2 separate regions of the Homo sapiens genome follow, and region 2 is linked to region 1. The links come from fine-mapping of genetic effects on plasma protein levels. A gene starts in region 1. The other region holds a variant in brackets. All regions are shown on one strand. Distances are between the middles of the regions. Region 1 holds the start of EMILIN3 (elastin microfibril interfacer 3). Region 2 has its middle 26 kb from the start of EMILIN3.

Region 1 (12,149 bases):
AGCCCTCTCCCCTCCTGCCATGTCCCCTCCTAAGTCCCCTCCCTCTGATTGGAGCATGTGTCTCCCACCATGGATGCTCTTTCCCCTCTCACCTCCCCAGGCCCCTTTCTGGCCCCTCCTGGGGCTTCTCTAACTCTCATCCACCTCTGCCCCTCTGGATGCCTTGAGCACAGAGCCTGGAGCCGACCTGTCTGTGCTTCCAGCACCGGGTGCCCAGCAAATGTCCCAGCAAATTAAGGAATTAAGGCAGAGCAGGTCTGAGATAAGGACAGTGTCTGGGTGAAGGTCAGGTTCTGCCTGTCCAAGCATGAGTCTTCCATGGCAACACCCTCCCCTTCCTTCCCCCCATGGAGGGTAGCCCCCTCCCCTGCTTGTTTTGGCCTCTCTGCACACACCCTGCATTGCAAGCCTGCCTCCCCCATCACCAGTGGGTAATCTTGTGTAGTTTTTACTCTGGTGTCCATGAATAGAAGAGTTAGAGGAGAGCTGATGGTGAGCCCTTCCCAGGGCCTTGCAACCACACCCCCGCATCAATGCCTGAGCAGCTCTGCACTCTACTCCCCCGCCCCCAGCCTCTCCCCATCCCTGTCCTAATCAGGCCTGGAGGCCAGCCCCTCCAGCAAGGGGCAGCCCCAGGTCCTTACTGGGGTCAGGCCAGCTGTGCCACATACTCTGGTCAGTGTCCGGACCTTCCAACTGGAGGCTCAGCCTGGCTCTAGCTGTGGTGGGCACAGGGAATGCAGACCCCTGCCCTGTACAGCTCATTCAACCCTGCCTCAGCCCTGATGTTTTGTCTCCTCTCTTTGTGGTACCTTCTAGACTCCTTCCCACACCCAGAGCCCCAGATTAGCCACCAAGGCCTTTTAGTCCTTTGTCCTGAAAGCCTCTAGAATCTAGCCCTGTTCCTCATCCCTCGGTCCCTGTTAGCCTGGTGGCTGACAGCTGCCAGGGCCACCCCACCGGCACCCCACCTCGTGTGTCTGCTCCACACAGCTGCAGCCACAGGATGTTTTTCCCGACAGTTCTGCATGCATCGTTTCCAGCTGTAAAGTCCAGACTTTTCACTGGGGTATTCAAGGCCCCTCTTGTCTGGCCCCTGCCAACCTCTCTTGGAGCCTGGGCTACCCAGAGCTCTGCGGGGTTCCCCATACATACCAGGCTCTCTCCTGCCTCCAGGCCATGCACATGCCGCACCCACCACCCACGGTGCTTTCTCCCCGTGCGGTGAACTCTAGTGTTGCCTGTTTTGTGAAACACCCTCTGATCCCTTCCCCCAAGCTCAGGCACCCAGGCACTTCTTCCTCTGTGAGCCCACGCTACCCTATGGTTCCTGACTATACAAGTTCATGTCCCCCTCTGCATGCAGGTCTGTCCCCCTCTCTTGGGTTGGGTTCCACAAAAGCAGATCCTGAGACAGGGATCTAGTTATAAGTCATTTATCAAGGGGGCTCCTGGGAGAGATACATAAGGGAGGTAGGAAAACAGGAGAGGATGGAAATAGAGCAAGAATGGATCCCAGGTAGAGTCTAGAGGGGCCTGACCAAGGGGGCTCTGCAACATAAACTAACACTGGGCTGTCCACCATGAGGCGAGGAGGCTGCCTTTTTTGTCCCCCTGTATATTAGTCCATTTTCACACTGCTGATAAAGACATATTCTAGACTGGGCAGTTTACAAAAGAAAGAGGTTTATTGGACTTACAGCTACGTGGCTGGGGAGGCCTCACAATCATGGTGGAAGGTGAAAGGCACATCTCACATGGCGGCAGACAAGAAAAGAGCGCTTGTGCAGGGAAACTCCCCTTTTTAAAACCATCAGATCTTGTGAGACTGAATCACTATCATGAGAACAGTGCAGGAAAGACCTGCCCCCATAATCCAATCACCTCCCACCAGGTTCCTCCCACGACACATGGGAATTGTGAGAGTTACAATTCAAGATGAGATTTGGGTGGGGACACAGCCAAACCATTTCACCCTATCAGCCAGTCACTCCTCAGCCAAGGGCAATTCACAGAAGGGGCAGCTGGGAGCATTCCCAGTAATCACACCTGCAGCCAGGGGATTCATGGGTACACTGACCAGGGAAAGGGAGTCTGGCTGGGGTACCCACAGCACCCCTGTTGAGTGTGACCTCTGCCAGATTTCTTGACGAGTGAGAGGTACATGGATTCCTGGTCCATCCAAGCACTGACATTTTCCAAACCCAGAGCTGCATGTGCTGCTTTGCAAGAAGGTCCTGCCCACAGCCTGAGGGGGCACAGCTGCTACTGCAGTGACTAGAAAGGAGGCCCAGATATCCAACCCCCAAGAAAGGACTCTGTGCAGAGCCCTGCCACACTCACTGGGCGTCTGTTATGTGCACGACTGTGCACATGGGAGCCTTGGCCAAAGTTCTCATCTATTCCTCATAATAATCATTTTCGTATAGGAAAGCAGAGGCTCAGAGGGGTGAAGTGACTCAAGGGAGGTCATGCAACTTGTGAGTGGAAGAGCTGGGATTCAAACCTGAGTCTAATTGACTCCTTGCCTGATTTCTTCCCCACAGTGTGTGAACCACCTTGGAGCAAAGCCCTTCCTGCCCACCATAAGAAAACTGGCAAGTCCTAGCTAGGTGCAGTGGCTCATGCCTGTAATCCCAGCACTTTGGGAGGCCAAGGCAGGTGGATCACTTGAGGTCAAGAGTTCAAGACCGGCCTGGCCAACATGGTGAAACCCCATCTCTACTGAAAATACAAAAATTAGCTGGGCGTGGTGGCTCACGCTTGTAGTGCCAGCTACTCCAGAGGCTGAGGCACGAGAATGACTTGAACCTGGGAGTCGGAGGTTGCAGTGAGCCAAGATCACGCCACTGCACTCCAGCCTGGGCAACAGAGTGAGACTCAGTCTCAAAAAAAAAAAAAGAAACTGGCAAGTCCAGGGTGATCTCTCTGCCCCACAACAGGTCTCAGCTAAACTTAGGGTCCTCAAGGACCATATCTGGCATTTGCAATAGTTGGGAGACCTGTGCATGTATTTTGTATATAATTTGCGTAATGTTGCATCTGGTTTGCATATGTCCATGTTGACAGTCCATCAGCAGTCACAATTTCTAAGCTGTTCCTAAGCTACTCTCACTCAATGGAAGTCCGTCCAGGCTTTACAGAGCCCAGTTTCCACGATTTCTGGACTCTTCCAGGACCTTGCCTCCAGGCTGCACATCTATCCCCCCTAGGATCCTGGACGAGCCCTGCTTCTGCCTAGCTGGATGGGGTCAGTGCAAACCCCTGCCTCAGAAACTCATGTGCATTTGGTATAACCTTTTATGATGGTGCAGATATAATCAAAATGCTGATGGTGATGATGTGGAGAAAAAAGTGAGCCTGGGCAAAGAGCCTTGCTGCACAGAACTTCCAAATGTGGCTCTGTGGGCAGGGAGGCCTAGCTGTGCACTCTCAAAAAAGAAAAAAAAAGAGGGTAAGGGAGATGGTCAGGGACAAAGGGCTGCACCTTAGGGCTGGTGCCTTCAAGGGCTGTGGTCCCTGTGCAGGAGGGGTCCATCTGCAGCAGGAAGAGCTTGTACCAGAAAGCCAGCAGCTTCAGTGCTTTCTATTTCTGTCTCTTTTAGGGGAACTGCATCCCATACAACTTTGTGTGGTTTTTAATACTCTTATGTGCTGGGCCCTCAATAAGAAAAGGAAAGGCCAGATGTGGTGGCTCATGCCTGTAATCCCAGCACTTTAGGAGGCCAAGGTGGGCGGATCATTTGAGACCAGCCTGGCTAACATGGCGAAACCCTGTCTCTACTAAAAAAAAAAAAAAGAAATACAAAAAATTAGCCAGGCGTGGTGGCATGTGCCTGTAATCCCAGCTGCTTGGGAGGCTGAGTCAGGAGAATTGCTTGAACCTGGGAGGCAGAGGTTGCAGTGAGCCGAGATCACGCCACTGCACTCCAGCCTGGGCAACAGAGTGAGACTCCGTAAAAAAAAAAAAAGAAAAGAAAAAAAAGAAAAGAACAGAAAAGAAAGGCAGGATGCATAGGGCTCACCCCTGCAGTCCCAATACTTTGGGAGGCCAAAGCAGGAGGATCACTTGAGGCCAGGAGTCTGAGACTAGCCTAGGCAGCATAGTGAGACCCCATCTGTACGAAAGGAAAAACTCATGCACATGCATGATAGTGGTATGGGGGATGGGTTGGGTGTGGTTGTGCATGTCCCTGTGAACTGAAACTGCACTCCCACTCCCGTGTATGGCCCGTTTCCATCCAGGTGTAGAAACTCCAGTCTGAGTCAGAGGAACATGACTGCCTCCTTTCCTCCTCTGCTTCTGGCCTCCCTAGGTTTCCTGTCTGGCAGATGCAAAGTGGCCTCATCGTCTATGGGGGGACCCCCGCTCTGGCCTGATCCAGCCAAGACCCTGAGCATCTCCCTGTACTGAGGTCCTCCACCCCCACTAGAATGGGGCCCAGATCCTGGATCCCAAAACTGTTGCAGTGAAAGAGGGAGCATGGTGTTTGATGTCAGCCACCTGGGAAAGGGGGAAGTGGGGTCCAGCTATCCTTTTAGCCCCTATGACGTGGATATTTCCAAGCTCAAACAGGGTCCAGCCTCTTCCTTGTGAGTTTTGGGCCCCACATCTGGGGCTGGGGAAGGGAGTGAGAGGAAGGGGTGGGACCACTTGGAAAAAGATCACAGCCTCTGGGGTGGGGGAGTTCCTCCCAGAGCCAGGCTGGGCAATGCTGCCAGGCAGTCAGCACCCAGCCTAGGATGAGGAGCTGGCTCAGATGTTTCTCACTTCCTAAAAAGCGCAAAGTCAGTGGTTACAAGATCAAGAGCTTGTTGGGGATATGGTGTATCTTGCCCTCAGCAAAATGGTTCATAACATCTCTCTTAGAGGTTGGAGCATATAATAGCACATTCGGTGCTTTTATAGGGAGAGTGAAAGGCTGTCTTAGGGACCATGTGGTTGCTGTAAGACTATACTTTCAGGGATCATTTCTACAGTTCATGACTAGAGAAGTTTCTCTCTGTAGAGCACATTTGGTTGCTGGGATCAGAAACCCATTCAAGCTAGCTCCAATGGTGGACTACTGGAAGCAGATAGGGAAGTCACAGCTTGTCCCCAGATGGTTACTCACCACATAGCCCCTGACTCTGCCCCTCTCTCCCCTGACCACACTCTTTCTCCCTTTCCCATGATTCCCCCAGAGCTCTCGTGGTCTCTCCTATCATTACCAGCCAAGTGCCCCTGTAGTGGATTGAATTGTGCCCCTCCCAAAATTCATGAACATTTGGAACCTCAGAATGTGACCTTATTTGGAAATAGGGTCTTTGTAGACGTAATCATTTGAGATGAGGTTATGTTGGGCTGTACATCCAATGACTGGTGTCCTTATAAGAAGAGGAGGCTGGGCTGGGTGCAGTGGCTCACGCCTAGAATCCTAGCAATTTGGGAGACTGAGGTGAGAGCATCACTTGAGCTCAGGAGTTTGTGACCAGCTTGGGCAACAAAGTGAGAGCCCATCTCTACAGAAATTTTAAAAATGAGCTGTGCATGGTGGTGCACAACTGTGGTCCCAGCTACAGAGGAGGTGGGGGCAGGAGGATCACTTGAGCTCAGGAGGTCGACGCTGCATTCCAGCCTGGGTGATGGAGCTAGACCTTGTCTCTATTTATTTATTTATTTATGGAGATGGAGTTTCGCTCTTGTCACCCAGGCTGGAGTGCAATGGCATGATCTCGGCTCATTGCAACCTCCACCTCCAGGGTTCAAGTGATTCTCTTGCCTCAGCCTCCCAGGTAGCTGGGATTACAGGCGCCCGCCACCACGCCCGGCTAATTTTTTTATTTTTAGTAGAGATGGGGTTTCACCATATTGGCCAGGCTGGTCTCAAACTCCTGACCTCAGGTGATCCCCCCACCTCGGCCTCCCAAAGTGCTGGGATTACAGGCATGAGCCATCGCGCCCAGCCCTGTCTCAAATTTAAAAACACAACCAGAAAGGCAGGGCGCGGTGGCTCACGCCTGTAATCCTAGCACTTTGGGAGGCCGAGGCGGACGGATCACGAGATCAGGAGATCGAGACCATCCTGGCTAACACGGTGAAACCACGTCTCTACTAAAAAAAAAAAAAAAATACAAAAAAATTAGCTGGGCATTATGGCGGGCGCCTGTAGTCCCAGCCACTCGGGAGGCTGAGGCAGGAGAATGGCGTGAACCCGGGAGGCAGAGCTTGCAGTGAGCCGAGATCGCGCCACTGCACTCCAGCCTGGGCGACAGAGCGAGACTCTGGCTCAAAAAACAAAAACAGAAAGAAGAGGAAAGGACACAGATCACAGTCACAGAGAAAAAAAGGTCACCTGAAGAGGGATATGCGGAGGGAAAGTAGAGGCTGGAGTGATGCTGCTACAAAGAATCCTTGACCAAAGAACGCCAGAGATTGCCAGGAACCACCAGTGGCTGGAAGAGGCAAGGAAGGCTTCTCCCCAGAGCCACTGGAGGGGGCATTGCCCTGCTGGCCCATGGATTTTGGAGTTAGCCTCCAGAAATGTGCAAGAATACATTTCTGTGTGTTAAGCCACTGAGTCTGTGGCTGTTACCACAGCCCTGAGAAACTCACACAACCTACACCTGGAAGCTGGATTCCTTCAGCTTCTGTGTTCTGATTCCAAAGCCTGGGGGAAAGCAGGATGGGCCTAGCTGGGGTCAGATGTCCGCCCCACAGAACCCAAAAGCCACTAAAGCTAAGGGCAGGAAATAGATGTGGGTTTCGGAGCTGCCCCTTCCAGTATCCTTGATAACCATCACCCTATCCAAAAGGCATTAATTCATATCTCAAGGTCAATTTGGAGGGAGGTCTCTCCAAGCAAGCCCCAGAGTTCTGTACACCTATCAGCTCCTGGGGCAAAGACACAGACGGCTGTAGCCACCGGTGTGGATGAGACAAGGCCAGGAAAGTACCGCTCTGATGACAGAATCAGAAGGACTCTGTGCAGGTTAGAGAGTTAGCAAGGTGATACTGAATGAGGACGACGATAAAACCCAACTCTTGGGTTCCAAGAGTCAACTTCACAAGCAAAATGTGGACGACGCCTGGCTTCACCGCGGCAGTGCCTTGTGAGAAAGACCTGAGGATTTTCTCTGACCAGCCGGCTTAGAGCTTCAGTTGCACGAAAAGCACAGCACTTTTGGCTGGGCTGGGGCGGTGATAGGCCTTTCGGGCTCGGTGCAACCCATACCTAAGACAGAGAGGCAACACAGGCGCCTCCAGAGAACCAGAGGTGCAACCGGGCCACCAGGCTACGTGGCAGAGGTTGCGGGGTAAGGGGGAGGTGGGATGCCTGGGGAGAGGTCAGCGGAGTTATCAAACTAAGGTTCCCGGGCAATGATGGGGCCAGGAGGCAGAGCGAGCAAACGGGGATGATCTGGGGTCTATTCCAAAGAGGTGGCGGGGGAGGTGGTGCTGCTGTGCCCCCAGTCACGGCCATCTCGGCTCCAGAGCCCTGGAGAGCAGTTCCCGGGTTCACACGGACTCTGAAGACAAGCGTATCCTGAGGGTGGACGACTCCTGGAAAGTCCACGCCCAGGCTGGCCTCAGGGGTCCGCTTCTCTGCGTCTCGCCCCGTGCCCGCAGGCGACAGAGTGGCTGGTGTGCTCGGGGGGCCTCCCAGGGCGCGGCGGCCTGCGCCCCTGCCACCTGGGGCTGCTCCCTTTGGAACCTCCTGTTCGCAGGCGGCTCCTCGGCCGTCCGCTCGGAGCTGGGGCGAGGGGCTGGCGGCGGCGAGCGGCGCGGCCCCAAGTTTATGCTAATCCGCAAAGAGCCCGCCTCCCGCCTCCCCTCCGCGGCCCCAGCCGCTAGCAGCGCCGGCCACTCCGCGGGACGCAGCCGCCGCGAAGCGCCAGGCGGCCGGGCCAGCGAGCTCGGGGGCCGAAGGGGACCCCGGGACCCTCGGGGCGGGACCCGGGCCGACCAGCGGCGGGGGCGGCGCGGCGCTGCAGGCGGACACCCGGCGGGGGGCACCGCGCGGGGCCGGGCAGAGGCGCGGGGGCCGCTATGGGCCGCCGCCGCCTGCTCGTCTGGCTGTGCGCCGTCGCGGCGCTGCTCTCGGGGGCGCAGGCCAGGGGCACCCCGCTCCTGGCGCGGCCTGCGCCGCCCGGTGCCTCCCGCTACAGTCTCTACACGACGGGATGGCGCCCGCGGCTGCGCCCGGGGCCGCACAAGTAAGCGCGGGCGGGCGGCGGGCGGGAAGAGGGAGGGATGGGCCCGCGCGCGTCGCCGCTCCCACCTGCCCGCACCCGCGGGGGGCGTCGAGGCCCCGGGCACCCCGAGGCCGCTGCACAGAGGGGGCGGCGCCCGGGGCCGAGCCCCTGCCCAGGCGAGCGCCCTACGCTCCGGGAGGTTGCGGGGCTGGCGAGGAAAAAGGAACCGAGGGGGCCTGGCGCGGCGGCTTGGGATCCTGGCAGTGCCAGCGGAAACCTTTCCAGCGAAGTAACATTTTCCAGCTGCGCTGTGTGCAGACTCCGGGCGAGCGGACCAGGTGGAGGGAGAGGAGGAAAGGCGGTCCGCGCGCTGAGCACGCGGGGCTCCCCCGCCCCGGGCCTCCCTTCTCTCCCCTGGCCCGGCCAGGTAGGAGATAGAGCTGCGCATCCGGGCGGCCGCTGCCCTCTCGCAGTCAGCCTGGCCCCAGCAACCCCATGGGAGCCCCAGCGTGGCCGGGCTGCAGAGCCAGAGCGGGCTCCTGGCTCCGGGCCTGTGCTGTGGCACAGCCGTCCACAGCGGTCGGCTTATGCCAGGCAGCCACCTCCTCAGCCCTTGTGGCTCATCAAGGAGCCTGCTTTCCCCGCCTCAGCTTCTGGTGTTTCGTGGGCAGTGGCTTGCGAACTGGCCTCAGTTAAGTGGGCTGGAGGCTCTGCCTGGGGTGCTGGCTGAACTTGAATTCTAGCTGAATTTGAGAGCTGTTGTAGGAGGAAGAGTACCGACACTCAGTGGGCCTGGGTACATCACAGCGAGCCTCCTGGAGGAGGTGGTACAAGAACTGCTCTGAGAGTAAGGGAACAGGACCAAAGGCAGGGGCTGCAAAACTACGAGGAGAGGTGGATTTCCCCGGGAGCCAGGCAGGGAGGAAGGACAAGACATGGTGCTCTCAAAGGAGTCACTGAGTGGGGACTCGGAAGCCTTAAATGCCAAGATAAGGAGTTTGGAATCAGCGAAGGATGGGGGGGTGTGGCAGGGCACTTGAGGGAGAATCCGGGCTGGCCTCTTCCCCACGCAGGGAGGGGCAGCCACATCAGGCTCCTGGTTCCAAATAGTGCTTAGCCCAGGGGCCACCCATCACGGAGGCTGGAATCAGAGACCAGCAGCGGGGCTGGACCCCAGACCAAGGGCGTTGGCTCCCAGGGACACAGAGAACAGACAGAAGAGACATGGGAGTTTGGAGTCCTGCTGAGGCCCACAGATGGAGGTGGGAGGGTAGGCGCCTCTGTGGGCCTCGCTCAGCCAGATATTCCAGGGGTGCCATTTTCTCCTGTAGGGCCCTCTGTGCCTATGTGGTGCACAGGAATGTGACCTGCATCCTACAGGAGGGAGCGGAGAGCTACGTAAAGGCTGAATACCGGCAGTGTAGATGGGGGCCCAAGTGCCCCGGGACAGTCACGTAAGTGCACTCCTCACCTACACACTTGGAATCCCCTGGCACAAGCGCCAGTCCTGCCTTCAGCTGAGAGCAGCTGCCAACTCCACAAGGGGCTTCTTGGACTCCAGAGAGCCCACCTGAGCCCCCATACAGGCCAGAGTAGAAGGCGGCCCCAGAAAAGAGGGTGCCAAGGAGGACCCCAGGGATTTGGGCTTGCAGCAGAGCATCACCCGCACAGACAGGGGCAGGCTTGGGTTGGAGCCCAGGAACCACAGAGGGACAAGGGGAAGGTTCTGGGGGCAGAGGCAGCACAAGGCTAGGAGGAAGTGACAGAGGCAGAAGGTGAGGGGAGAGGAGGGAGCAGAGGGCCCCTTAGGCAACGGGTGATGCCACAGGGGGGCCTGGCAGGCCCAGGGAGGACTGTGGTGACCACAAGGAGGCAGGCCATGGGGCAGGGAGAGGAAGCCGGAGCAGCAGGGCTGCACGCACATGGGATGCACAGCTCTGTACCTGGAGAGGTTCACGTGTGTGTGTGGAAACAAACCTGTTGTCTCCGGTGTGTCAGTGGGTGAACAGGTACGTGGCTGAACAGTGAGGGCATGGACCCTCGCGAGCCTGCCTGTACCCTGGACCTTCCCTTCCCTGCTCACAATCAGAGGTACCCGTCCATCTGCCTCTCTGACCAGAGCCGAGGTCCCGGAGCAGGCTAGAGAGGAGTGGAAAGAACTAAGGGGAGCAGGTAGGAGCCAAGAGTGGCCCCCAGGGCAGTGAGGGGGCTGCCAGCGCCAGCTCCAGGGCAGTGCCCCTCCCTGCCCACAGGGAGGGCTGGGGCTGTGTCTGATTCTCCCAGGTGCTACTGCAGCCTGAGTGGAATTTCTCATGGCAGCCTGAGCTAGAGGGGGTCCAAGTGGTCTTGGGAGGGATGGGGCAAAATTCCTGCTTCTCTCCAAGCTACCAGGATGGGTGGGACTTCTACCTGCATCCTTCCCTAACATGACTGTGAGCTTCAGGAAGGCCTGCCCTTACCCACCCCTGTCACCTTAAGCACAGAAAAAGTACAGCCCTGGGGGTGCTATGGAGGTGGGGAGATACCCAGCCTTATGCAAGTGTCTGAGGGCGGCCCTGAGTGCCAGCTAGGGGGAGAAGCACAGCCCTCAGGTGCAGGATCCCACTCTCTTGCCCTCCCTGGCCCAGGTACCGCACAGTACTCAGACCCAAATACAAGGTTGGCTACAAGACAGTGACAGACCTCGCCTGGCGTTGCTGTCCCGGCTTCACTGGGAAACGCTGCCCTGAGCACCTCACGGACCATGGGGCTGCCTCACCCCAGCTGGAGCCTGAGCCTCAGATTCCTTCAGGGCAGCTGGACCCAGGCCCCAGGCCCCCTTCCTACAGCAGAGCAGCCCCCAGCCCTCATGGTGAGTCTGCCCAAGGAGACCCTCCAAGGTGATTGGGTTTCTTGGGCTCAGTGGCAGGGGCAGGGAGGGGACTGATCCCAGGCTGGCTGAGCTCCGGCATGGATGGGGAGGGGCAAGCCCCAAGCCCCACTTTCACCCCACCATAAAGCTGAGGGAGTTATGCCCAGTGAGAAGGTAGGCTTAGAACAGAAAGTCTGGGCTGGGCGCGGTGGCTCATGCCTGTAATCCCAGCACTTTGGGAGGCCGAGGCGGGTGGATCACGAGGTTAGGAGATCGAGACCATCCTGGCTAACATCGTGAAACCCCATCTCTACTAAAGATAGAAAAAAAATAGCCGGGCGTGGTGGTGGGTGCCTGTAGTCCCAGCTGCTTGGGAGGCTGAGGCAGGAGAATGGCATGAACCCGGAAGGCGGAGCTTGCAGTGAGCCAAGAGCACACCACTGCACTCCAGCCTGGGCGACTGAGCAAGACTCTGTCTCAAAAAAAAAAAAAAAGAACAGAAAGTCTCTTGGGTGGCCTGGCATTGTGACAAGCTGAGAGGGTGAGGCCAGTGATGCCCCTGGGGCTCTCTTCTCTTTCCCAGGAAGGAAAGGCCCAGGGCTGTTTGGTGAGCGGCTGGAACGCCTGGAGGGTGATGTCCAGCGCCTGGCTCAAACATATGGTACCCTCAGTGGCCTGGTGGCTAGCCACGAGGATCCCAACAGGATGACTGGTGGCCCCAGGGCTCCTGCTGTCCCTGTGGGCTTTGGGGTCATCCCTGAGGGGCTTGTGGGCCCAGGAGACAGAGCCAGAGGGCCACTAACACCTCCCTTAGACGAGATCCTAAGCAAGGTGACAGAGGTGAGCAACACTCTTCAGACCAAGGTGCAGCTTCTAGACAAGGTGCATGGGCTGGCACTTGGCCATGAGGCCCACCTGCAGCGGCTGCGGGAAGCCCCACCATCCCCGCTCACCTCCCTGGCCCTGCTGGAGGAGTACGTGGACCGACGGCTGCACCGACTCTGGGGGAGCCTGCTGGATGGCTTTGAGCAGAAGCTGCAAGGCGTCCAGAGTGAGTGTGACCTGCGGGTGCAGGAGGTACGGCGGCAATGTGAGGAGGGTCAGGCCGCCAGCCGGAGGCTGC
Region 2 (12,149 bases), 24 kb before region 1:
TTGATATGTTGCCCTAGCTGGTCTCAAACTCCTGGCCTCAAGCAATCCTCTCACCTCAGCCTCCCACAGCGCTGGGATTACAGACGTGAGCCACCACCCCCAGCCTAAAAAATCTGTTGTTTATCTGGAACTCAAATTTAACCAGACAGCCTGTATTTTATCTGGTAACCTTACTTAGTAGCAATAGTGTGCTATTTACTAGGCACTTCCTGTGAGTAGGATTTGTTCTACATATGTTATGGCCAAATTCTTAATCCCCGCAATAACCCTATGAGGTTATCCTCATACATACAAGGAAACAGGCCCAGGCCCAAAGAGGCTAAGTAACTTGCCCAATCATCCAGCTGGAAAATGTCAGGGCTGGGCTTCGGGAACTCAGAAGGAGTAAACCCAGAACTGTAAACTGACCAGGAGGGGAGCTGGGCATCTTTAGTCTGAGGCTTGGAGCAGGCCATCCCTCTAGAGTGCAGCTTCATAAAATAGCACTAAGCACAAATGATGAGCAAGGGGAGAGAGGCTGCTCTGGCCCTTGCACTGCAGCTACCATCCCTGAGGCCAGTGGGGAGGCAGTTAGCCTCAGTTTTTCCCTCCCATCCCGCAGTGCTGGTGTTGGGAGGCCTCTGAGCTGGGGCTTATCCTAGGGAGTAAGTGTCTAAGTGCTTGGACTCACCAGCCCAGGGCCAAGGAGCCCCATGAGAAGCAGTGTCCAATCTTGGAAGGTGGAAAGAAGGATGGCAGGGAGTAGGACAACTGTTCAGCTAGAATGACCTGGGGAAAAGGATGGGGGAGCTGACTAGGGAGGGGGAAGAGGCACATCTCACCCACTCATCTGCTGGCCATGACCTTCCTCCTACCCAGGCAGCTCAGCTACATGCACCACTAAAGGTGGCCACAGCACTGCTTAGTCAATACCTACTGTGCAGGCCTTCTGTGAGCTCATTCCAAAACACGTTCTCCAGGAGAGGACCAGGCTCAGGTAGGTTGTCACCTGCCTTCAGTGGCATAACTAATGAGGAAGAACAAGAATTTAGAGATGGGTCTGATTCCAGAATCTAGTGTTCTTGCTCAGGCCTTGGCTTTGCATGTGGAGCCACAGGCCCAACACGCTTTCTTCCCAGGGTGGAGTGAGAGCTACGGCCCACAAGCCAAGAACCAGGACTCACATTTATAAATAATTGGACAATCAAAGGGAAATATTTCATGAACATAAAAATAATCCCCTCACACCTGTAATCCCAGCACTTTGGGAGGCCAAGACAGGCAGATCACGAGGTCAGGAGATCGAGACCATCCTGGCTAACACGGTGAAACCCCATCTCTACTAAAAATACAAAAAATTAGCCGGGTGTGGTGGCGGGCGCCTGTAGTCCCAGCTACTCGGGAGGCTGAAGCAGGAGAATGTTGTGAACCCAGGAGGCAGAGCTTGCAGTGAGCTGAGATCGCGCCACTCTACTCCAGCCTGGGTGACAGAGCGAGACTCTGTCTCCAAAAAAAAAAAAAAAAAAAAGATCCCAAATCCAAATTCTAGTGGCCATAAATAAAGTTTTATTAAACACAGCTATACTCATTCCTTTGTGTATTGTCTATACAAAGCTGCTTTTGGGCTACGACAGCAGTGGTCACAGAGACCACACAGCCTGCAAAGTCGAAAATATTTATTATACTGTCTGATCCTTTGCAGAAAAAGTTTGTCGATCCCCATCCTGCAGCATCAATTTTATTCATAGATTCAATGCAAAAACTCATTTAAAATATTTCATATGGCCAGGCACAGTGGCTCATGCCTGTAATCCCAGCACTTTGGGAGGCCAAGGCGGGCGGATCATCTGAGGTGAGGAGTTCGAGACTAGCCTGGCCAACATGGCAAAAGCCCATCTCTACTAAAAATACAAAAATTAGCCAGGTGTGGTGGCAGGAGCCTGTCATCCCAGCTACTGGGAAGGCTGAAGCAGGAGAATTGCTTGAACCCAGGAGGCAGAGGTTGCAGTGAGCCGAGATGGAACCATTGCACTCCAGCCTGGGCAACAGAGTGAGACTCCATCTCAAAAAATACACACACACACATACATATATATATATATATATATATATTTCATATTAACTCCAACATGGTTTTGTATAAAAATGAATCACATAGTGGAATATAAGATTCATGTCTACTTTTGAGATAAAATGCTTCCAAGAAGCCCTTGGCTTTGGGCATGCTTCTTGAGGGCCAGCCTCCAAACCCGAGGGCATACTTTCACTTTGGAGGAAACACTGGAGTTGCCCTGTCCCCCTCCCCTCTTCACACTGAGTCTTTTTTGTTTGTCTGTTTTTGTTTTTGTTTTTTTGAGACAAAATCTCCCTCTGTCACCCAGGCTGGAGTGCAGTGGTGTGATCACAGCTCACTGTAGCCTCGAACTCCTGGGCTCAAGCGATCCTCCTGCCTCGAGAGTGACTGTCCTGTTCCCCACTGAGATGTCCAGCTGGCTCTCAGAAGCAGGACACTAGGAGAGGCTCAAGAGTCCAGGTCGATGCAGTGCTGTGGCCAGACTGAAGCAGCTTTGCCACGTCACCCTGGTCTCATCTACCATCAGGCCCCTGCTGGCTGTGTGTGCCTGTTCCCCCTCAGGATGACAACCTGGCCTCACCTTTCTCTGTCCCCAGCGCCTTGGGGCTCTTTGAAAATCCTCAGGGACTCCCAAAGCCTGCATAGGGCAGGAGAGCTGGGCCGAGGAAGGTCCACGCTGCACAGGGCAGGCAAGGACTCAGCACTGCTGGGTGTTTAGACTCTTTCCTGGCTCAGACCAAGAAAACTCTAAACTCTGTAGACACAGCTCCCAACCCCCACCCACTCCCCACTCCAGCTCTGACCCAGGCTTTTCCATTCACAGATCCCAGACTTTCCAGACCGGCAAAGAGCCCGGAGGCACAAGGCACCGTGAGTGCCTTGGGCAGGGGTTGGGGGCGGGGCGGTGGATTGTATGAGGCTGAGGAAAGCCCCAGCCGCAGCCCCTTGGGCCTCCCCAGGTAGAAGACACCCCTACCCTCACCCCAGTCCCTTGTCAAATTTCCCCGTCAAGAAGCAGCACATACGTATATAAGGATACTCCTAGTGTTGGTGTGCATCTGAGAGAGAGGGAAGGAGGGAGGGAGGGAGAGCTGGAGGGCGGTGGGGCAGGGGAGCAGGTGTTCCTCCTGGCTAAGCCCCTGCAGCTACTTCCTTTCTTCTCCCAGACAAGTTGAGGATAATTAGCATCCCATGAGGGAAGAAAGAGGCAGCTCCCATCCCTAGACTGAGCGTGGGAGAATTCAGAGCCCCCACCAACTCCACTCCCAGTGCGCAACCCAGCATCCCCAAAACAGGCCCAAGGACAAGGAGTCCACCACCCCCACCCTGTGGGCCCAACCACTCCCAGCCTCTGTAAGGAACAAGAGTTCAAAGAAATAAAACCTCCATCCAAAGAGGTACTTGCTCTGCACAGTCAACCGGGGGGGCACAATGTTCTTGAAACCCTGACCTTTCTTTGGAGTTACTGGTTGTTTCTTGTGTTCTCTGGCTCCTTTTCAAGCTGGGCTGGTCCATGAGTGTCTCTCAGGGACAAGGTACGACAATCGGAAGCAGACAAAAAAAGATTCTCTGCTTGGCTTTTGAGTTTCGGTGCCTGGCCTGGGCACATGCCAGATAAGAGCAAAGCTTCCCAGCTACCATCCCTCCCGCCTGGAAAAAGGTTTCTGAAGGGAAGAGGAAAGGGGTGGTTGGCAGCGGTCAGTGGGGATGGACTGAAGGAACCAGCCTCTTTGAGGGTGTCTCGTCTGTTTCCAGCACCCAGGAGCCCCCTGGAGCCATGTCTGAACCCAGGCTTCTGGGATCCTCTTCCTCAGTTGCCCCACCAGCCTGCCCCTCCCACACGGCTGTGGCATCTCCAGCAGCAGCCCCTGTGTCTCCTGTGACAGACCAGTGAGGGGGGTGCCACCTGTGCCCTGAGCATCCACTTGAGATAGGGTCTTACCCATTGGACTGCCCTCCCATCTTCACCCTAGGGCACCCTTAAGACCCAGTGGAGGCCAGGTACGGTGGCACACACCTGTGATTCCAACACTTTGGGAGGCCGAGTTGGGTGGATCGCTTGAGATTAGGAGTTCGGGACCAGCCTGGCCAACATGGTGAAACCCCGTCTCCACTAAAAATACAAAAATTAGCCAGGCATGGTGGTGCGTGCCTGTAATCCCAGCTACTCAGGAGGCTGAGGCAGGAGAATCACTTGAACGCGGGAGGCGGAGGTTCCAGTGAGCCAAGATTGCACCACTGCACTCCAGCCTGGGCAATAGAGTGAGACTCAGTCTCAAAGAAAAAAAAAAGACTGGGTTGAGCCCCAGTAGGGGAGATAGCAGTACAGAAAGCCCCTCTCTTGTGCCTCAGTGGGACTAGGAGAAACAGCTTGAGGTCCCCTGCACCCCAAGTAAGGCAAGTGCTGGGTAAACCAACCCTGTGCTCAAACACTGACTTTGTGATATGGACTCAGGAGGCCTTGAGCAAAAGGGCCAGCCAGGCTCAGAGCCTGCTACTCTGAAGTCTGGCAGTGGCACCCACCTCCCTGCAGAAGAGGCAGACCCAGGGTTATCCATGGCAGGGTCACCAGGGCCTGGGGCTGCAGGATGCTAGGAAGTGGCTCAGCTCCTGCCTGGTCTGGGGCATCACTCTGGGCCTCTCCCTCCAGTGTGCCCATGGGGAGTTGAGCTGCCTGAGCCCTGGGACCCCTCCGAGCTCTGCCACCCTGGACATGAGACCTTGAGATGCTGTGTCCCCATCTTTGGGGGTGAAGGGTCCATTGACCAAGTTCACCTTCAGGCTGCAGGGCCGTCTCTGGCTGAAGTTCAGCTGACTGATGCTCCCATTTAATCTTGGGGCTTGGAGCAGGGTTCCTGAGCCCCCCAGGCAGAGTTCCCACCTTCCTGTTAGGCTATTCCCCATGAGCCTTTTTATAAAGAGTTTGGCTGGGAGCCAGAGAGTTTTGGAAAGTGTATGGGCCAAGCCAAGCTGTACAAACCTGTCTTCCTCCCAGAGCTGAAAGAGGCCAGGTTGTTCCCAGACAAATGCAGAGGCGGGGCCGGGGGTTGGGAAGAAGAAAGGGGGCTATTTTAGGAGGACTTGCATACTGCAGAGCCCCCACACAGCAGCAGAGGGTGTGGGGAGGCACAGCCAGAGGCAGCAGAGTTAGGGACCTGGTACCAGGTGTCTCATGTAGACACACACATGAAACATATGCATACACCCCCAAACGCATGTGGGCACAGACACAAGTTACACAGATACGTAGGCTTGCGACTGTGTATAAGCATGTGCTGATGTGTACAGAAATATGCACAGGTACATACTAGGCAGTCGCACCTGCAGCTGCAGGGACATGCACAAACATGCTCATACATACAATCACACACCACCACGTACACACACATGCATAGACACTTAGAGATGTACACAAAGGATGCAGATTGAGCAATGCCAGGCTAAACCCAGGAGGCTGGGAGAGGGCTTGCACTCCCTGACAGCCCAACTCCCTGAAACCCAGCACACACGTGCGTGCACACACACACACACACACACACACACACCCTGGGAGGAAACTGCTTCCTCCATAGGAACTTTTGGATCCAGGGCAACATGCAATCAAGACCTTGTACTAGGAAAGAAAGCGCCTTTGTCTGCTGGGACCAGGGCTGCAGGAGCAGCTGCAGCCTCCTCCAGGATAAGAGCCAGGCCAGTTCCTTGCCCTGGGGAGGAAGGTCAGGCCAGGCCCTAGATGGGGGGTGGAAAGAGGGAGCTGGGGGCTCCAGCAGGCCCTGCCACCAATCCCAGGACACTGTGTCTGGCTGG[G/T]GGCACAAAGCCCGGAAAGCCTGTTGTTCTCAGGCCTGGCCTCCCTGACCTCTAACCCTAGTTTGGCCCTGTCTCCAGAACGACTGTGGTTCTGATCCCAGCCCTGGGGCTACACTGACCCAGACTGAGACCTGGCTCGCCTGGGGCTCCATGCCTGCCATGTGCCTGTGACGTCACTTTTTTTAGCGGAGTGAAAAAAAGTCAGGCTCTGGAATTAGAAAGATGTGAAATTGAATCCTGATTTTGTCACTCTCTGAGTGATTTTGAGAATGTACTTGACTTTTTGAGCCCTAAATTCAAACTCCTGTTATACAGAGGCAAATCTTTTTATTTATTTATTTATTTAGAGACAGGGTTTCATTTCTCATTCCATCACCCAGGCTGGAGTGCTTGCCGTAACCAACCTTGAACTCCTGGGCTCAACTGATCCCCTCACCTGAGCCTCCCAAGTAACTAGAACTACAGGTGTGCACCACTCACCTGGCTAATTTTTTTTTAAATGTATCATAGAGATGGGGTCTTGCTGTGTTGCCCAGGTTGGTCTGGAATTCCTGGCCTCAAGCCATCCTCCCCACTTGGCCTCCCAAAGCACTGAGATTATAGGCATGACTCACCACGCCCAGCCCAAATCCTCTTTATTGAGCCCACTGCATACAGCTGCCTTCTCCCTGTGTGCATCTTCTCTTCTGGGCCTGGTGAAGCTGGGTTGGTCCTCTCAGCCCCCAGCACCCCTACCCAGCACCCTCTCCTGCTGCACTGGCCCCAGGGAGGAAAGCAAGACCCAGCCCAGATCTCTAGGGGCTGCCATCTTGGGAGCACCCCTCCTCCCTTGTGCCCTTTTCTCACCCTCTGTGGTCCCAGCCCTGTCCTTGAAGCTGCCCCGTGCCCCTTTGCACTCCTCATCACACTCTGAAGGCCAAAACTTCAGTGAGAACAGCCCTGTTTTTCTAACTCAGGAAAAGGATTTAGCCTTGGAGACCCTGCAGAGGTAACTTAAGCCCCATCCCCAGACACTTCCAGAACTAATTTTAGTCCTTCCATTCAACAGATATTTACCAAAGGCCTACTATGCTATTCTAGATGCTGGAGATTACACGGTGAGCAAATAGGCAAAACTTCCTGCCCTGGGGCTTACATTCAGGCTCCCCATGCCCCATGCTGCGTGGGAGCCTTTAGCCTCACACATTCTCCACATCTGCCCAAGGGCTGCAGTCACTGTGCAAGCGCAGACACACCTCCTCCTTCATGTTGCCACAAAACTTTGGAATGTCACTATCATCACCGTCGCAGCTCTTTCTCCCACTAAGCCGCTCCTGGCTGATGCTAGGAATCTCAAGCGCAGGAATGCGCCTGGTGTGAATGCACTTGAACTATTGAAAGCCATTGAGGCGCGCTCTCTCTCTCTGCCCCGCCACCTCCTGCCCTCATGTAAGATGTGCCTTGCTTCTCCTTGCCTTCCACCATGATTCTAAGGCCTGCTCAGTCATGCAGAACTATGAGTCAATTAAACCTCTTTTGTTTATAAATGTTTTAAAAATGGGCCGGGCGCGGTGGCTCACGCCTGTAATCCCAGCACTTTGGGAGGCTGAGGCGGGCGGATCACGAGGTCAGGAGATTGAGGCCATCCTGGCTAACACGGTAAAACCCCGTTTCTACTAAAAATACAAAAAATTAGCCGGGCGTGGTGGCGGGCGCCTGTAGTCCCAGCTACTCGGGAGGCTGAGGTAGGAGAATGGCGTGAACCCGGGAGGCGGAGCTTGCAGTGAGTCGAGATCGCGCCACTGCACTCCATCCAGCCTGAGCGACAGAGCGAGACTCTGTCTCAAAAATAAAAATAAAAAATAAATAAAATAAATAAATAAATAAATAAATAAATAAAAATGAAAGCCATTGTGGAGTCTGACAGCGGCTTTCAATAGTTCAAGTGCATTCACGTACCACTGTGCCTTAGCGTAGGTCTTCTGATCTTACAGTAACTTGGCATCTTTTAACTATGATGCAGTTATGATAAATTATTGCATCATAATTGAATTATACATAATTATTTCTCTTAATTGCATCATAGTTAAATAACTTGCCCTTATTTTAAATAAAAGCATGCTGTTTTAGGAAATAAATCAGTCATGCACAATGGCTCATGCCTATAATCCCAGCACTTTGGGAGGCTCAGGCAGGAGGACCTCTTGAGGCCAGGAGCTTGAGACCAGCCTTAATAACATAGCAAGGCCCCATCTCTACAAAAAATAAAAAATTAGCCGGGCACAATGGCACATACCTGTAGTCTCAGCTACTTAGGGGGCTGAGGTGATAAGATTGCTTGAGCCCGGGAGTTCAAGGCTGTAGTGAGCCATGATCATGCCACTGCACTCCAGTCTGAGTGACTGAGCAAGACCCTGTCTCAAAAAATATAAAAGAAATGGACTGAACCTGAAGCTCAACTAGTGTCAGTTCAGTTGCCCTGCTCTGTCACTCACAGTACGATGCATTTGTTCATGAAATATTAATTGAGCACTTGCTCTTTGCCGGACCTGGAGAAGGGGAAAGGGGTCCCTGGAGCTCCCTGTCTAGAGTGAGCCAGTGAGCAGAAAATGACAATGCTGTATAGTAAGTGCTGAATAGACTGATGGGCAGTTGCCATAGGAGCCCAAGGGGAGTTCCTTGGGGGCAGTGGGGGCAGATGGATTAAAGACAGTTTTGCAGAACAGGGGATATTTGAGCTGAGCCTTGAAGGAGCAGTTGGATTTTTTTTCAGGTAGAGATGAAAGAGAGTGAGCCAAGCAGAAGGACCAGCATTTGCAAAAGTCATGGAAACAGGGAAATGCCTGATGTGTGAGGAAGATGGCAAAATGTTAAATGTCCCAGGCAGGGAGGTCAGGCTGGCTGGGGAAGTGACTGGCACCAGATAAGACTGTGAATGCCAGGGAGAGTGGGGAACCCCTGCCACATGGAGGTCACCCAACCCTGGCCCTGGAGCTGTCCCCCTGAGCTGTCCACCCCCATCCTGAAAACTCCGTTCAGCCCCTCCCCTCCTACCTTCCTCCTGCCCTTAGAAACCCTGATTTCACTGTGGTCAAATTCCCCCCCATTCTTGGCTTAGGGAAAACAATTATGAGGCAGGAATTCTTGTAAGAGCTTTTTCTATATTAAAATGCTTGATCCTCTGTTAAATATTGTTTGTCTTTTTTTTCACAGTTTGACCTTATTTTATTATGTTTTGTTAGAAAGAAGCCTCCCATTATTATGTCATGAAATCTATCAGTCTGTTCATATGATGTCTTCTTAGGAAGTTGTCCCCTATCCTAAAATTGTGTAAGTATTCGGATTCTTTTATGGTTTACCTTCTAGCATTTAAATCTTTAAGCCATCTGCAGTATATTTAGATTTAAGGTAGAAATCTAACTTTTTTCCAAATTGTTAGCCAGTTGTCCAGTCCCACATCTTAAGTAATCCATCATTTCTGCCCTGTTTTTTTTTTTTTTTTCAAATTTTCAATTCCCCCCTCTCCTCGATTTTTAAAGTTATACATGCTATCCAGAAAAAAGAAGAGGAACGAGCAGGAGGGGGATGAGAAGTGTGGAAATGTATGGCTAAGGAAGTAAAAGCCCTCCCCTTTTACCTCCCTGAGGTAGAGGCAATAACTGTTCATCATTTGTTATAGATCCTATTATTATTCGTGTTATAACACTTACTAGGTTTCTCTTAAGTGCAGAAATATTCAAAAGAGAAAACCCAAAAGGGATCAAAACCTCTGGAACATATTTTGGCATAAAAACATGTTGGCTTCTCAGGTGAAGGAGGTTGCAGTGAACTGAGATCACGCCACTGCACTCCAGCCTGGGCAACAGAGTGAGACCCTGTCTCAAAAAAAAAAAAAAAAAAAAAAAAAATATATATATATATATATATGCATATATATGTATATGTGTGTATATATGTATACGTGTGTGTATATATAGGTATATATATATGTTGGCTTTTTTTAAAAAAAAGAATACATATGGCAGGGCACGTGGCTCACACCTGTAATCCCAGCACTTTGGGAGGCCGAGGCAGGCGGATCACAAGGTCATGAGATCGAGACCAACCTGGCTAACACGGTGAAACCCCGTCTCTACTAAAAATACAAAAAATTAGCCAGGCATGGTGGTGTGCGCCTGTAGTCCCAGCTACTAAGGAGGCTGAGGCAGGAGAATCGCTTGAACCCAGGAGGCAGAGGTTGCAGTGAGCCAAGATTGCACCACTGCACTCCAGCCTGGGCAACAAAGCAAGACTCTGTCTCAAAAACAAAAACAAACAAACAAACAAAAATATATAAGGTTGGAAAATAAAACAACTCTAAAAGATACAAAATGAAAAGTGAACACTTCCCTCTCACTCACTACTGTCCCACGCCAAGTCCCTCTCCCCAAAGGTAACCACTGTTGAAATTTCCTATTTGCTTTAGTGTGACATGCATTTCTTTGCCACATTCCACATTCTCATATGGAGATGGGTCTACTGCTCGTGTTTCCATTTTCTGTGCCATTTCCCTCTCTGCTGCGCCGGCACAAGTACCATAATGTTCAATGTATTTTAGTGTTACCTGTGTTTTAACAGCTGAGAGGGTAAGTCCCGCTTTAATGTTTTTCATCTGCGGAGACATGGTGAGTATTCTACACTTAACGTTCAACTTTATATTGCACCCTCTCCCTACCCCCACCAATTTGATTGGAAATTTGTTGGAAGGGCATTGTGTGTATAGATTCATTTGGAGAAGATGATGACTTTATCTCTTTGTGGACACCTCACCCCTGTGACTGCATTCAGATTTTGTGACTTTTCTTTTTTTCCTTTTGAGACAAGGTCTTGCTCTTTCATCCAGGGTGGAGTGCAGTGGCACAATCATGGCTTACTGCAGCCTCGACCTCCCGAGCTGAAGTGATCCTGCCACCTCAGCCTCCCAATTAGCTGGGACCACAGACACATGCCACCACCCCTGGTTAATTTTTTTATTTTTAGTAGAGACAGGTCTCTCTATGTTGCTCAGGCTGATCTCAAACTCCTGGGCTCAAGTGATCCTCCTCGGCCTCCCATTGTGGGGATTACAGGCGTGAGCCTGGCCCTTTTCTCTTTGAATTGGAGTGAAGGCATACAGATTTTATTAACATCTACACAGGGAGAACCACAGAATCATTCCCCCAGACGTTGAGACTTTTCTTGTTTGGGATTTTGAACATCTCTCCTTAGAGCATCTTAATCTTCGTCCATCTGATGTCATAACTGCAGCTGCCTACTAGGAAAAGGGTTGGGAGACTCGGTCTCTGTCTTCCCATACTCGAGGGTATCAGGTGAAAGAGGGTGTGGCCTGCTCAGCAGAGCTCCAGAGAGCAGAACTCAGACCAGTTGGGGGTCACACAGAGGCCGCCTTTGGCTCAGTGAACGGAAGAATGTTCTATCCGTTGGAGCTGCAGGGCCATGGAACAAGCCACTGGGGGAGGTGGTGAGCTCCCCACCTTGGCTCTTTTCCAGTGTTCCAGGGAAAATGCAGCCCGTGCTGCCCAGGGGCATCCGTGTTGCTGAGAGGAGTAGGGGAGGATGCTCGGTGACTTGGGCCCCTGTTCTCTCCACTCAGGGAAAGTCAAGGCTTTCTGAGCCCCGTGCTGTGCTGCTTACTTCATTTCATTTTGCACAATGACCTCTCTGGGTAGAATGGCGTTATTCTATTTTCCATTCAAAGACAGGGAGGCCAAGGACTTCTCCAGGCTCATCCAGCTAGGCCTGCTTGAACCAGATTCCAAAGCAGACCCTCCCCAAGCTGCCTGTCTATGATTGTCCCCTGGGAGCCCCTGCTCAGAGTCAGGACTGAAAAAAAAGGAAGCGGGAACACCCTTCCTGTCTTTCAGTCTGGGGACAGCTGCAGGGCAGGTGAGCAGCCCAGTGGGCAGCAAGAAGGCACCCTGGCTCCTCTCCCATCCCTGGTTCTGCACGTCCATGTCTCTCCCCCGGGCAGCTCTCAGCTTGGCTCACAGTGTCCTCAGGGGGCCAATGGGCTTCTTGATTCCAGGCTGCACATCTGGAAGTTGACGCTATTAAAACAAACCCCATTATATAACAAACGGACATCTGGAATCCGTTAGCACTGAGTTTTTAGAAAAAGAAATTGTTTTGGATGTGCTCTCTCCTAAGAATGTGGCAAAGCGCCCTCACCCTGGCTGTCCAGGAACCCAGGGATCCAGGGGCCTCTCCTGGGCCCACTTCTCAAGGTACTCAGGCCAGGCCAGAGGTGGGCTGGGGCAGAGACAGAGACAGA

Evidence for each region. A credible set is the group of variants that fine-mapping cannot tell apart. PIP is the posterior inclusion probability: the model's chance that the variant is causal. Protein levels are from the aptamer-based SomaScan assay of Sun 2018.
Region 2: its variant is the best candidate, but not a certain one, in a credible set for the plasma level of the EMILIN3 protein (Sun 2018, PIP 0.56).

The regions. Positions count from the first base shown.
Region 1 is chr20:41,362,515-41,374,663 of GRCh38, reverse strand. EMILIN3 (elastin microfibril interfacer 3) reads left to right here and starts at 7,846. Exons shown (of 4, transcript NM_052846.2): 1 at 7,846-8,196; 2 at 9,507-9,629; 3 at 10,803-11,026; 4 at 11,610-12,149. The coding sequence starts at 8,030. It also overlaps the pseudogene LOC124904985. RefSeq lists an enhancer at 8,608-9,109.
Region 2 is chr20:41,386,823-41,398,971 of GRCh38, reverse strand. No RefSeq gene overlaps it. Among named protein-coding and RNA genes, the nearest start is that of EMILIN3, 26 kb to the right of the region's middle. RefSeq lists an enhancer at 6,634-7,299. The variant G/T (reference allele first, on the strand shown) is at 5,861.